Homo sapiens: one gene and its partners. The protein of the gene in region 1 interacts with the protein of each later gene in a pairwise test. Each region holds a gene or a part of one and is shown in the gene's direction. Other genes may lie near its edges.

Region 1 (4,039 bases):
TGGTGTCATCTCCTATTTCTGGGAAGGCTTGGAGTTATTTGCATCTAAGCTGGGGGGTACTTCTGCTCTTCCTTCCCCCAGGGATGGAGAAAGGGCTGTGGGCCACAAGGTCTCAGTCCCTCCTCCCCCTGTGTTACAGCTGGATATTCAGTCCTGGGCTGGAATCATCCAGGCTTTGCTGGAAGCACGGTGAGACCATCTCAGGAATCCCTTCCTTTTCCTGAATTATGTCTGTTTCCCTCTGGTCAGCCATTGGAGGGAGGAGAGGGGCTGTGGATTTCTTGAAGGCGTCCCACTCACCTGAGGGCTGGGGTCTAGGAGGTTGTGAAGGCAGCATTGGGAGCCATGCCCCCATCCCCACAGTGCGGGGCTAGCAGGAGAGGAGGAGGTAGATCTCATTGTACACATCCGTCTTCTGGAGAGAACAACCTCTCCTACCATCCCTTCCTTCTACACCTTCTCTGCCTGTCATAGGTGGCTGCAGGAGGGGTCCACGTTGGGAGGGACAGGTGAGCTGGCCTTTGGTGCTGACACACTCCTGACTTTGCCCTTTCTCCTGCAGGGGGTGCCATTCCCGCAGAATGAGGCTAATGCCATGGATGTGGTGGTCCAGTTTGCCATCCACCGCCTAGGCTTCCAGCCCCAGGACATCATCATCTACGCCTGGTCCATCGGCGGCTTCACTGGTACCAGCCTCCCTCCCATCCCCCACTGTAGACACATTCATGACCACCCAGCCCCACCCGGGAGAGGTGGGGAAATGGGGTGGGGTGGAGGCTCAAGGAAGAAGAGAGAGGAAGTAGAATCTCTGAGTGGGCCTGGAAGAAGCTATCCTATTTGCATACACTTCACCTTTCCTTCCCCTCTTGTGCCCAGTCATTAAAAGGAAAAGCAGACCCAGGTCCTGGGTGGGGAGATCAGGGAAAGTGAATGTTTCCTGCCCATTATCTTCAGTGCACTATCTCCAGTGTTCTATCCCCATCCTCTCCAGATAGTTCCCTAACCAAGTGAAGTAGGTTAAGAAAAAAACAAGGGATAACATAGGGGGAATGGGGTTGGCCTATAGGGTCAGTGGGATGAGAGCATGGGTGGTGGGGAGAAAGGAGCCTTTCTCAGTTCTTACTCTTCTTCCCTGCCCTGGTACCAGCCACGTGGGCAGCCATGTCCTACCCAGATGTTAGTGCCATGATCCTGGATGCCTCCTTTGATGACCTGGTGCCCTTGGCCTTGAAGGTCATGCCAGACAGCTGGAGTGAGTGCAGCTCCCAGGCCTGCCCTTCCTGGGAAGGGGTGGGCTGGAACTGGGAACTGTTCTGAGATGGCTCCCTTTTCTTGGGTGGGGAGTAAGTCGCCCCATTGTTGGAAGCAGGAGGACTCCTTTGTCTGGGGGCCTCAGTTTTCTTTCTCCGTGAATAGTGAGGACCTTTATGTTGGGCAAGGGCTTTGTCTCTGCCATCCCTTCACCTTTATCCCACTCTAGGGGGCCTGGTGACCAGGACCGTGAGGCAGCATCTCAATCTAAACAACGCGGAGCAGCTGTGCAGGTGAGGGCCGGCCAGCGTCCGGCATTGAACACCTGCCCCCCATACAGCTCTGCTGGGCGCTCAAACCCTGAAACTAGTACTAAAGTGCAAGTTGGTAAAAGGCCACTGGCTCACATCCTGAGTGACCCTGCCACCACCTCAACTGGCCTAACCCCTCCCAGGTCCCCTGGGACTCTGGACCACCTCAGGATCTGGCAACCAAAGGGTTAAGGCCTGGCACGGCAGGGGTCTCCCAGCAGGGCCAGACTGAACCATGCCCCTTAAATAATCCCCTCTCACCCCTGAGTGAAGGGCTAGGTCAAGGGCTGTGCTATAGCAAGGGGAGGGTAAGAATGCTACCAGTGCAGGGATAGGGGTGGGCCAGTTGTCACCCGTCTCCCTCTGAGCTCTCCCTTCCCACTGCTCTGTTCTCTGAAGATACCAGGGTCCTGTACTGCTGATCCGGAGAACCAAGGATGAGATCATCACCACCACGTGAGTGCGTGGGAATCTCGGCCCTCAGGAACCCCAGAGATGGCCAGGAACTTGTCCCTTCTACCTCTGCCCACCAGAAACCTGGGTATCTAGACCCTTCCTCCTAACCTCCAGCCCCTCCAGGGTACATTCTTCTCACCCCCAGGGTTCCTGAGGACATCATGTCCAACCGAGGCAATGACCTCCTGCTGAAGCTCCTGCAGCATCGGTGAGAGCCAGGGTGTGTGCGCGCTGGGGGCAGTGTACACACACAGATACTGATACCAGCACAGGGAAGGAGGGAGGAAGGTTCAGGGATGGTGAATGAAAAAAAATCAGCCCTGACCTGTCCTGGCACTTCCTCCGTAGGTATCCCCGGGTGATGGCAGAGGAGGGTCTTCGAGTGGTGAGGCAGTGGTTGGAGGCCTCCTCACAGCTGGAGGAAGGTGAGAAGGGATCCAGTGAGGCTTGGGGCGGGGGCCCAGCAAGGTCAGGTTGCTGACTGGCTGTCATCTCTCTCCCTGACCAGCCTCAATTTATAGCCGATGGGAGGTGGAAGAGGACTGGTGTCTGTCTGTCCTCCGCTCCTACCAGGCAGAACACGGGCCCGACTTCCCCTGGAGCGTGGGTAAGGAGCTCCTGGGGCAGGAGAGAGGGTGGGAAGGGCCTAGGAAGGGGATGAATACCCAGATGTGTGGCCTATTTTGAGCGCCTCCTCTCTGCAGGGGAGGACATGAGTGCAGATGGACGGCGGCAGCTGGCTTTGTTTCTGGTGAGCTAAGGAGTGGGAAGTGGGAAGGGTTCTTGAATGGCCAGGGCTCACATAGGGGGACTGGGGATACCCTATAAGCATTGGAAGTGGCAGCTTTTGTAGAGTGGGTGGTGGATGCGGAAGTGGAGGGTGGGGAGGGAGTCCAGTGGCTGCCCCTCCCAACAGTGCTCTGTACCCCACCTGTCCCACCTCCTTTCCTCAGGCTCGGAAGCATCTGCACAACTTTGAGGCCACTCACTGCACCCCACTCCCAGCCCAGAACTTCCAGATGCCCTGGCACCTCTAGGGACCAACTGGGACTCATTATGGAAGAATGGGGTGAGAGGAGACATGAGGAAAGACCCTCTTATTTGTGATTCTCTGTGTTCATGTTGCTGTTTATAGTTTGTGGAAAGTGGGGGACCATCCCCCTTCTCACCACTGTTCCTCTTGCACGTTTCCCCTCATTCATGTGGCTGTACTTAACCTTCTCCAACATACATCCTGCATTACATGAATGGATTATTCCTAATAATTAATAAAAAGGTATTTTTTCTACTATCAGGCTAATTGTATAACTTCTCAAGTGTCCAGGGAGCCAGGGGCAGGTAGTGGGGAGAGCAGAGGCCCCAAAGAGCTGGGCTTTGGGAAACCCTAACTCTAGACAATCTAGCTAATCTAACCCTTCCCATCTCTGTGTCCCCCTAGGCCTTCAGCCCCTAACCTGAGCTTTCCTCAGGCAGCAGGTCCCCAAACCTCCCCGGTCCCTGATGTGCCTACTGTTATCACAACTGTGCAGCCTCCCTGGCCCCTCCCGCCTCCTTCTTCAGTTCTTCCTGCATACAACCACCCCAGGAGCCCATGGTTGCCCCCTCCTGCTTACGGCTCATGAGCTTTCTAGGATCCGATTTCACCTACCCAGTGCTTCTGCTGGTTTCCAGGTTCAACCTGCATGGTGTTACTAGCAGTACCCCCAATTTTCATTGCTCACCTCTTGTTATCTTGGTGAAGAGTGAGGAAGGGCCTGCTCCCCACGTCTTATGCAGCAAACCCTGCACACCCACCTTGCCATGTCATCAAGTCTCTGTCCTCACAGCCTTTTTGCAGTTCAACAAACACAGGCCCTGCCAGGGACGGAGGGCCAGGTGCCAAGGACTCATGTCTTCTCAGAGCCATACTTTGCCTTTTGGACGGCTCTGTTAGGAGAAGATGCTTAGGTTGTACCTGAGGAAATTGGTTCCCTATAACTGCCATCTATCTCTAACTTTGGACCTTGTGGAACACAGTGAAT
Region 2 (2,841 bases), on another chromosome or scaffold:
GATGGAGCCTCCTTGCTCTGTCGCCCAGGCTGGAATACAGTGGTGCGGTCTTGGCTCGCTGCAACCTCCGCCTCCTGGGTTCAAGTGATTTTCCTACATCAGCCTCCCAAGTAGCTGGGATTACAGGTGCCCGCCACAATGCTCAGCTAATTTTTGTATTTTTAATAGAGACAGAGTTTCACCATATTGGTCAGGCTGGTCTCAAACTCCTGACCTCAGGTGATCCACCCGCCTTGGCCTCCCAAAGTGCTGGGATTACAGGCACAAGCCACCACGCCCAGCCCAAAAAAGTAGTTTTTTTTTTAAGATGGAGTCTCGCACTCTCGCCCAGGCTGGAGTGCAGTGGCGCGATCTTGGCTCACTGCAAGCTCCCTCCCAGGTTCACGCCATTCTCCTGCCTCAGCCTCCCGAGTAGCTGGGACTACAGGCAAGCGCCACCACACCTGGCTAATTTTCGTATTTTTAGTAGAGACAGGGTTTCACCATGTTAGCCAGGATGGTCTCGATCTCCTGACCTTGTGATCTGCCCACCTCGGCCTCCCAAAGTGCTGGGATTACAGGCGTGAGCCACCGCACCTGGCCAAAAAGTAGTTTCTTGAGATGAAAGTGAACATTGTGGAAATGACAAAGGATTGAGAATATTCCATAAACTTAGTTGCCAAAGCAGCAGCAGAATTTGAGAGGACCGACTCCAATTTTGAAAGAAGTTCTACTGTGGGTGAAATGTTATCAAACAGCATCACATGCTACAGAGTCTTTCATGGAAGGAAGAGTCAGTTGATGCAGCAAACTTCATTGTTGTCTTGTTTTAAGAAATTGCCACAGCCACCCCAACTCTCAGCAATACCACCCTGATCAGTCAGCAGCCGTTTACATTGAGGCAAGACCCTCCACCAGCAAAACGATTGCGACTCACTGAAGGCTCAGATGATCGTTAATATTTCTGAGCAATAAAACATTTTAAAATTAAGGTACATACATTGTTTTTTAGACATAATGCTGTTATGCACTTAATAGACTACAGTATAGGGTAAACCTAAGTTTTGTCTGGGTAGAGTGACTCACACCTGTAATCCCAGCACTTTGGGAGGTCAGGGTGGGTTGACTGTTTGAGCCCAGCAGTTCAAGACCAGCCTGGGCAACATGGCAAAACCCATCTTTACAACGATTACAAACATTACCTGGGCATGGTGGCGCATGCCTGTCGTCCCAGCTACTGGGAAGGCTGAGGTAGAAGGATCAATTGAGCCCCAAGAGGTCAATGCTGCAGTGAGCCATGATTGTGCCACTGCAGTCCATTCTGGGTGACAGAGTGAAATCCTGTCCCAAAATAAAAAAAATCACATAGCTTTTTTTTTTTTTGAGATGGAGTCTCACTCTGTCACTCAGGCTGGAGTGCAGTGGTGCAATCTTGGCTAACTGCAACCTCCACCTCCTGGGTTCAAGCGATTCCCTGCTTCAGCCTCCCAGGTAGCTGGGATCACAGGTGCACCCGCCACCATGCCCAGCCAATTTTTGTATTTTTAATAGAAATGGGGTTTCACTGTGTTGGCCAGGATGGTCTTGAACTCCTGACCTCAGGCCATCCACCTGCCTTGGCCTACCAAAGTGCTGGGATTACAGGCGTGAGCCACCACAAATCACGTAACTTTTATATGTACTGAGAAAACAAGCGTGAGCCAAAAATCATGTAACTTTTATATGCACTGAGAAACCAAATAATTTGTGTGATTTGCTTTATTGTGATGTTAGTCCATTGAGGTGGTTTGAAACCGAACTTGCCATATCTCCAAGATACGCTTGTATTCAAGAACCATTTGTTGAAAAGACTATTCTTTTTCTATCGAATCATCTTTGTACCTTTTTCCATAACTTAGTAACCTTATCTATGTGAGTCTCTTTCTGGATTATGTATTCTTTTTTTCGATCTTGCATTCAATTTGCTAATATCTCGTTGCGCATTTTTGTGTCTGTGCTCAGGCTGTTATTGGTCTGTAGTTTCTTAGTACGGTCTTTGGTTCTAGTATCAGGGGATGCTGGCCTCATAGAATGGGTTGAGTGCTCTCTCTCTTCAGTGTTTTGAAAGATACTGTGTAGAATCAGCAGCATTTCTTCCTTAAATGTTTAGTAAATTCCCCAGGGAAGCCTGTCCTCACCGATGGAAAACTGCTAATGTAGAGAAGTCAGCTGAGGCGTCTAAAGGGACTAAGGAAGGGAGGAAAGGACACCAGGAAACTGTAGCCTAAGGTCCAGAGGGTTCTGGTCCAGACAGAGCAGCAGGGAGGCCCCGGGAGCTCCTTCCCGATGTGGGCTGTGGTCTCTGCAGGTGCTGTCCCTGGACACCAACATCACAAACCAGGTGAATAAGCTGAACCGAGACCTGCTTCGCCTGGTGGATGTCGGCGAGTTCTCCGAGGAGGCCCAGTTCCGAGACCCCTGCCGCTCCTACGTGCTTCCTGAGGTCATCTGCCGCAGCTGTAACTTCTGCCGCGACCTGGACCTGTGTAAAGACTCTTCCTTCTCAGAGGTGCGGCTGAGCTCCAGCGGGCCCTTCACTGTGGAGCAGAACATCCGAGGGCACTGCGGTGTCTTGAGGGCTTCTGCAGCTCCAGCTCTGTGGGTCACACCTGCTGCCCCTCTGACTCACATGGATTGGCAACAGGCCCCTTCCCAGGCCTCCCCACACCATGTTCGGAATGTTGTCCTAGGAAGGGCTCAAGTGCAGGTGGGAGGCCAGAGTGCGTGCAGCTGCACTCAGGAGACTCGCCCGTCACCAGGCGCTTCTCACAGCCCCTTCCTCTCCTGAGATCCTGCCCATGGCACTGTGGTCTGGAGGCTGGG
Region 3 (3,801 bases), on another chromosome or scaffold:
AAATATTTTCTCTTTTTTTTTCCTTTCAATTATACTCTGTATGAAATGGTTTAATATATGTTTCCTTGGTTTCAACCATTGGCATTTTTTAAAAGAGAAAAAATACCATGGAGTATTTTTAAAATGAACTAACACATGTAATGAATTACATGGACTTTGCAGACAGATAAAAGGGCAAAAAAATATGTCCAATTTCAGGGTTTTCAGCCCTTTCAACATTGCTTTAATCATCCTGGTTTGTCTTTTTTCACAAGGGAATGCTGTGTTAATGACTCAGTTTTCTATCTTACTCTGTTACACTAGAAATGAATCAGAATGCCTCATTAGGCCAGGGTAAACCACAACATCAGAATGTTTATATAACAATTTATTAAAGCGGAAATGCTTGATTGTGGTTTTTAATAAACTGTTGAGTGTTTAAGAAAGAGTCTTGTGGTTGTCCTTGTGACTTTTGTAATTGTTGTTGGACCATATGCTATTAGACTTAGAGTTGTCTTTATTAATTAACTACTTAAAAGAATGCCATCAGTAGCTGATAACCAGAGGTTCCAGGTTTCCATTAATAAGGTCATTAAGGGAGATAACAGAGATTTTATTTAAGATTAAACTAAGCCTTGATTTGTAGCACATTTTATTCTCTGTAACATAAGTTTGCCAGAGGAACATTTTTATGCCTTTGTAGCCTTTTATATGAATAATTCATATTATAAGGTAGAAGTACTAGGTACCTCAGTTGAAATTTGAGGCCGGGCACGGTGGCTCACGCCTGTAATCTCAGCATTTTGGGAGGCCAAGGCAGGTGGATCACGAGGTCAGGAGTTCAAGACCATCCTGGCTAACACGGTGAAACTTCATCTGTACTAAAAATACAAAAAATTAGCTGGGCGTGGTGGTGGGCGCCTATAGTCCCAGCTACTCAGGAGGCTGAAGCAGGAGAATGGCGTGAACCTGGGAGGCGGATCTTGCAGTGAGCCAAGATTGCGCCACTGCACTCCAGCCTGGGCAACAGAGCGAGACTCCGTCTCAAAAAAAAAAAAGAAAGAAAAGTAATTTGATTTTAATTTTGTCCTAGTGGAAACTGGAGAAAGACGCTTTTTCATATTCAGTATTATATAAGAAATGTCATAGTTTTAGCCTTCTAAGAACCACAACAAAGAAGGTGGGATTACTAAAGGAAAAAACATCCTATAGTCTATAAGTATCCTAAATGAAATTTTAGTAAATTTTTAAATCTTTAGTAAGTTACAGATGACAGTTTCTCATGGTACTAATATTGATGTAGTTGAATGTAAGTAGATGTTGTGTGCCACTATTTTTGTTTTTATTTTTAGGTTTTTGAGACGGAGTATCACTCTTATTGCCCAGGCTGGAGTGCAGTGGTGCGATTTTGGCTCACTGCAACCTCCGCCTCCCAGATTCAAGCGATCCTCCTGCCTCAGCCTCCTGAGTAGCCCAACTATAGGTGCCCACCACCACACCTGGCTAATTTTTTGTATTTTTAATAGAGATGGGGTTTCACCATGTTGGCCAGGCTGGTCTCCAACTCTTGACCTCAGGTGATCCGCCTGCCTCAGCCTCCCAAAGTTCTGGGATTACAGGTGTGAGCCACCACGCCTGGCCATGTGCTGCTATTTTCAAAAGCCGAAGCTCTTGCGTTGAGTCAAAGGGAAACAAAGACTTTGGTGACTAGAACCGTAGTGTGTCTTGTTCATGCGTAAGATTAAGGTATTATTTTCTAAACTTGCATTTGTGGTTATTGAGAAATTACAGATCGGTAAAATAATATTATGGTCCAGATTTGAAGTGAAAGATAATCCCTAGGACAGTCAGTTTTTATGGGAGATTTCCTTGTTTTTTCTTTTTTTAATAAAAATGATATCTTAGTTCTATAGTATTTGGTACAGTGCTATGTCCACAAAAGGTTCTTGGATAGTGAATAGGCCAGAACTTGCTTTAAAATTGGCTTCTGTAGAGCAGTGTTTGGATAGACACCTCTGAGAAGACTAGCACTTTGAGCCAATTTGAGAGAGTTGCTGCTGCTGCTGCTGCTACTGCTGCTACTGCTGCTACTGCTGCTACTGCTGCTACTGCTACTACTGCTACTGTTCACCACTGGGATTACAATGTTGCCATATGCTGTGCAGACCAGTTTATAAAATCCAGAGTGGCTGCATGTAGAACATTTTTTTAAATCACTATTGACCATCTAGGTTTCATAGACACCCTCATACATGCAAACATACACCCACAGACGAATATTTTTAAATCACTTTATGAGTAATTTTTAAAAGTAAGATTAAAAGGGATTGTGTAAAACAACTTTAAAATTTTAATAAGAATGTAAGCATGGTAACCATCTTTGTATCAAGTAATGTTTGACTCACAAACATAAAAAGCTGAGAGAGTATAGTTACATCCTTGTAGCAACACAAGATAGTCTAGATACTTGTAAAATATTGGGTGTATGTTCTCCCTGCTGAAATGATTAACTCTATGATAAAATCATTTTTCCTTTCTATGCTTAGAAATATATTTTTTACTGACTGATTCTTAAGTTTGAGAAAATTCACCTAGGATATGTTTTGCTGAAGACTCATCTGAGATTTCACATATGATCGATTTTATCATCTAGACTCTAGAATGTGTCTCTGCATTTGTATTAGTTTCCTAAGACTACCATAAGAAGTAATCCAAACTGGGTGACTTAAAACAACAGAAATTACTTCTCTTTCATTTCTGGAGGCCACATATCCAAAATCAAGGTGTCAGATTTGTGATTTCTTCAGAGACTCTAGGTATCCATTTCTTGCCTCTTCCAGCTTCTGGTGGCTGTGGGCATCCCTTGGCTTGTGGCCACGCCATGCCATTCTGTGCCTCCATAGTTATGTTGCTTTTTCTTCTCTCTCTAAACTTCCTCTGCCTTTCTCTTAAAAAGATGCATGTGATTACACTTAGGGTCCAGCTGGATAATCTGGAATAAACTCCTCAAAACCTTTATCTTAATCACATCTTTTTCCATATAAGATAATTTTCACTCATTTGTCATAGAAAGTAATATTCACAGGTCCCAGGAATTAGAAAGTGAATATCTTTGGGAGGCCATTTTTTAGCCTACCACACCATTCATCTTTTGATTTCTTTAACAGTGGCAAGATGTCTTCCTCTGTCAGTTGTCTCCACTTTGCAAATACTGGATAGGCAGAAAATGAAAACTAAAAACAGGTTACAAAAATGGTGTTTTCAGTCTTCTTTTATACTTTCTGGAGGTGACATGATACTTTGTACAGCACAGTAAAGAAGCTCAACAATGATAAGTTATTGCATCATCCTTTCAGATCATTTTCTTATTTTAATTTCTTTTTATTACAAAAGGGAATAATTGATAAGTAATGATGAAATAATTCCTAGGATGATGAAATGGCAAAATGTTTCAAGATACAGGAAATATAAAAATACTGCAATAATCCTATAATATATCTTAGATTTATGAAAGGGTTCTTTGGACCTCTCTGGTAATTGCAAAATATAATTTATTTTATTCTGTTTTTTTAAATAAGTAAATTTTCTCATTATTTGAAAGACTTAAGAAAAGATAAAAATTATGAAATGCTAATTTATACAAATAGTGAGAACTGCTCAGAAAAGGAACTGAAAAACTAAAAGTGGACCCGTGGAACCCAGTGGTATACTGAGGGTTAATGGTTGAGTTTTTAAACATTTCAGGGGATACCAAAACAAAGAGACAATTTCTAGAATCCTTTAAAAATAACATTCATTAATTCATTCCATCCCCCTTTAAAA
Region 4 (3,801 bases), about 110 Mb from region 1:
TTTTTGTATTTTTAGTAGAGATGGGGATTTCACCATGTTGGCCAGGCTGGTCTCGAACTCCCGACCTCACGTGACCTTTCTCGGCCTCCTAAAGTGCTGGGCTTACAGGCTTGAGCCACCGCGGCTGGCCTATTTCTAGCTTGACATTTAAAGTATTTATTTATTTTTACTTTTTTGCTCTTATTAGTTGATCTTACTAGCCTTGTAACATTTTGCGTTTTTGTATGTAATTTCTGGAAAAAAATACAGCATGCTTTGTCATACAGAAACCTTAAAAACACGTCCTAGGAAAAACTCAGTTTTGTTGGTGATCGTTAAATGGTTTCCGTGTTCTTGATTTAATGTTGAATCTTTGCGAGGGCTAGGAAACTTTGAGAAGCTGTTGTTCATCTAATGAATATCACTTAAATTGGATTTATAATGCTGCTGGTTTCTTTGATTACATGAGCTTTTCTAAATGGTACTTAGAAAATAAAGTTAGGACACCAAATTGGTCTTCCCTTAAGAAAATAAAACAAACAAACAAAAACTTTCCTACACAGAAACGCAGCATCTATTTACCTGGAGTACTGAATGCTTTTGTGGTCTCAATCCAGAGAATGAGAGTTGACAATAAGAATCCTTTCTACTCTCTCCCATACACTTACACACACACACACACACACACACACACACACAAATCTGGTATATAAAATAGTAATGAAAGACAAACTTGTGTTCGTATTAGATAAAGATGGACAGTCTGCCTTTGAAAAACTGAGGACCATCTATTGAATCATGAAAGATGTAGCTTTAGGACAAGTTCTAAAAATTGATGTTTTCCAGTGGGGTCGGGAAATAGGGTAGAATTTAGACCATGATATAATATAAAAATATAAACAGCTCCTAAAGGGTTTGGTCAATTTGTAGAAAGTAGGCTCATTCTAGGTAACTAAGTGAGACCACAGCTACCTAGGGCATAAAGTTATTAACTTTTCAAAATGTAGGTCATCGAGAATACCCATGTCCTAAGTCTCTACATCTGAAAGGCTCCTTCTCAGACAGAACGGTGGGCTGGGAGGACCCTGCTCAGACCTGGTATGGTCTAAATGGTCACTGACATGAGAAGGCAGATTGCTTTACTTGAAGACGTCTGTTATTCATCAGTCAGGATCTTTAGAACTGTGCCAAGTTTTCTGTCTTAAATGATAGTTAAGTGATTCAATGTGGGTGTTTCTGTGATGCAAGGAGCAGGTTTTACACGTTCTATTTCCAAGGCAGTCTTTCTCAAGACAAAATGTGGTTTAATTTTCCATTTTGATTTTCTTTAGACTCAGCACTTTAAATAAGCAAGACATGAACTGAGTCGTGTTAAGATAGCATGGGAAAAGTTCTTAAAATATTCCTATATTTATGTTCACGTCTTGGCTTTAGGTTAGGTGAATTGGCTTACCATTTCTTTGGTTTAATTCCTTCCAAGCACTTGAAACTAAGCATAAATTATACTTCAGCTATAATGTTAGAGGAAGTATAATAGTAATAATCTTTTTATGTTAATTTTCCTCAAATAGGTAAAATTGTTAATATTACTCTTTACAGAAATATCATACATAATTTATTTGGCTAGATTTTTCAAACCTTTATCTGTGATTGTAAAAGTTTAGTTATTGAAATAGATTCCTTGTTAGGAGGTTTTGCCTGTTTTTATGGAAAACTCACATTCTCCTATGCAATGATTTTTATTATGTTTGCGTTCTTTTACATGCATATATAGATATGTTTCCTTTCATTGCAGTTTCAAACTTCTGAACTCATAAAATTAAAAAAAAGTTTTTGCTTATTTGATTTAACTATTGGACTTAATTGAACTTAACAATTACCAGTGGCCATTTAAAAAAAACTAAAGAAATGAGACTGTAATTGACAATGGGTCACATACTTAAAGTTATATGATCCTTTTTGGTAGTGCTGCATCTGTTTTAATAAGGACTTTAATCATCTAAGTTGTTCTCAAACTTTATGGATATAAGAAACACTAATAACATGCAGATTCTTGGGTGCTACCACTCAAGCTCTGATTCCATAGGTCTGGAGGGAGGCACAGGAATCAGTATCATTTTAAGGAGCACTACTGCTTATTTTGCCTTTGTGGTCTATGGGCTGTACTTTGAGAGGTCTGATTAATTAATGTTCTTTCCAAAGCATGGTCCCTCTTCTCTTAAAAGTTATCTTACTTGAAGAACAAGGCAAAAGTGAGAAAAAGAGACTTACTAAGTTTTAACATTTTGGCTTTATTCCTTTCTATTTTAAAATAAAACATTCCCATTTTAACCTTATCTCTCAAGTCTCTCAGTGGTCTGACAGGAAGAGCTAGAAGATTTGGAGGAAAGTAATAAAAATTGTCCGTATAAAACTAGGCCAAATCAGGTACAGTCTCAGCCCCATCCTGACCTAATTTGTGTGAAAACAGTGTTTCTAGGACAGAAAAATGTTTTATCTCCTTAATAATCTATTGTGCCCCAGTCACTCATGAATCTAGAGGAAGACCTGGAAGGTGCATGGGAGTTGGAGAAGGGCATGTGGAGCCTTAGCTCAGGTTTGTCTCTAACAGATGAAAAGAGAAAAATGCATCAGATGATTGAGAAACAATCTTTAAGGGATGGTGCAGAACCTTGCGAATGTAGAAGAAAATAAAAACATGAGGTACTAGAGAAAAGTCACAGGGACACAGGAGGAACATTTTGAGTAGTGAGGGCTGGGGAGTTAGTCACTGATACTACAGGAGTGTGCTTCCATCATCTTGGAATAGGTGTTTTTAGCCTTGGCTAACAGATGCAAAGACTGGAGTATGGCCAACAGGGGCAGAGGCAGGGTCCAAACGAGGTCCAGCAGCTCCAACACCCTTGCTCTTTCTGCCAGCCCCATCTTTGTTTCACCTTGACCAGTCAAACAACCTAGAATTAAGTGAGGACAAATACTGTCAGCTGTGCTGCGTCACAGAGTAAGAGTAACGCCAAGATGGAGGACAGGTGACTCATGACTCTCCTTTTCAAATGTAGTGAAGACTAATAGGTTAAGTGTGCACGATCTTCCAAGAGCAAATGAACGGATAGACTAAAGTCTATCCATACCATAGAATATTAATCAGCCACAAAAAGAATGAAGTATTGATTGATGCTATAACATGACAAACCGCATCATACCATACTCAGTGAAAGAAGCCAGTCACAAAAGGCCACATAGTGTATGATATTCCATTTATATGAAAAGTCCAAAATCGGCAAAGGTATAGAGACAGAAAGTAGATTTGTGGTTGCCAGAAGCTGGAGGAAGAGGGGATGGAGGGTGACTGCTAATGGGCACGGGGTTTCTTTGCGGGGCGATAAAAATATTCTGGATTGTTAGTGGAGATGGTTGTACAACACTGTGAATATAGTAAAAACCACTGAATTATACACTTTAAAAGGGCGAACTTTATAGTGTGTAAATTATATCTTTAAAAAAGTCATGTTTTGGATTCAAACAGGCTGAAATCAAACTCTGTCTAAACCATTTACCAGCTGTGTGGCTATGGGCAGGTTATTTGAACTCTAAGTATATCCTTCATTTCTAAAATAGAAACAATAGCAGTGTGTACCTTAAGAAGTTATTAGGAGATTTACACTACTCAGGTAATGGGTGCACTAAAGTCTTCACCATCATACAATTCAGCCATGTAACCAAAAACCACTTGTACCCCAAAAACTACTGAAATTAAAAAATATATATAAAAATAAAAAATAACCTGGGAAAAAAAAGTTGTTGTGAGGATTCAGTGAGCTC

What was found. The genes of interacting proteins can lie anywhere in the genome.
Region 2: the proteins of ABHD16A (region 1) and POLE interact in binary tests that used the Homo sapiens proteins (3 or more experiments, as listed by UniProt).
Region 3: the proteins of ABHD16A (region 1) and GORAB interact in binary tests that used the Homo sapiens proteins (3 or more experiments, as listed by UniProt).
Region 4: the proteins of ABHD16A (region 1) and PERP interact in binary tests that used the Homo sapiens proteins (3 or more experiments, as listed by UniProt).

The regions. Positions count from the first base shown.
Region 1 is NC_000006.12:31,686,228-31,690,266, reverse strand, and holds the end of ABHD16A (phosphatidylserine lipase ABHD16A), read left to right. Parts: intron 1-139; coding exon 140-189; intron 190-300; exon of another isoform or gene 301-562; coding exon 563-686; intron 687-1,147; coding exon 1,148-1,252; intron 1,253-1,480; coding exon 1,481-1,544; intron 1,545-1,961; coding exon 1,962-2,018; intron 2,019-2,163; coding exon 2,164-2,226; intron 2,227-2,366; coding exon 2,367-2,443; intron 2,444-2,526; coding exon 2,527-2,625; intron 2,626-2,722; coding exon 2,723-2,769; intron 2,770-2,971; coding exon 2,972-3,055; 3' UTR 3,056-3,312; downstream 3,313-4,039. UniProt on the Homo sapiens protein: Phosphatidylserine (PS) lipase that mediates the hydrolysis of phosphatidylserine to generate lysophosphatidylserine (LPS). LPS constitutes a class of signaling lipids that regulates immunological and neurological processes.
Region 2 is NC_000012.12:132,625,803-132,628,643, reverse strand, and holds part of POLE (DNA polymerase epsilon catalytic subunit A), read left to right. Parts: intron 1-2,326; coding exon 2,327-2,527; intron 2,528-2,841. UniProt on the Homo sapiens protein: Catalytic component of the DNA polymerase epsilon complex. Participates in chromosomal DNA replication.
Region 3 is NC_000001.11:170,545,365-170,549,165, forward strand, and holds part of GORAB (RAB6-interacting golgin), read left to right. Parts: exon of another isoform or gene 1-427; intron 428-3,801.
Region 4 is NC_000006.12:138,097,420-138,101,220, reverse strand, and holds part of PERP (p53 apoptosis effector related to PMP-22), read left to right. Parts: intron 1-3,801.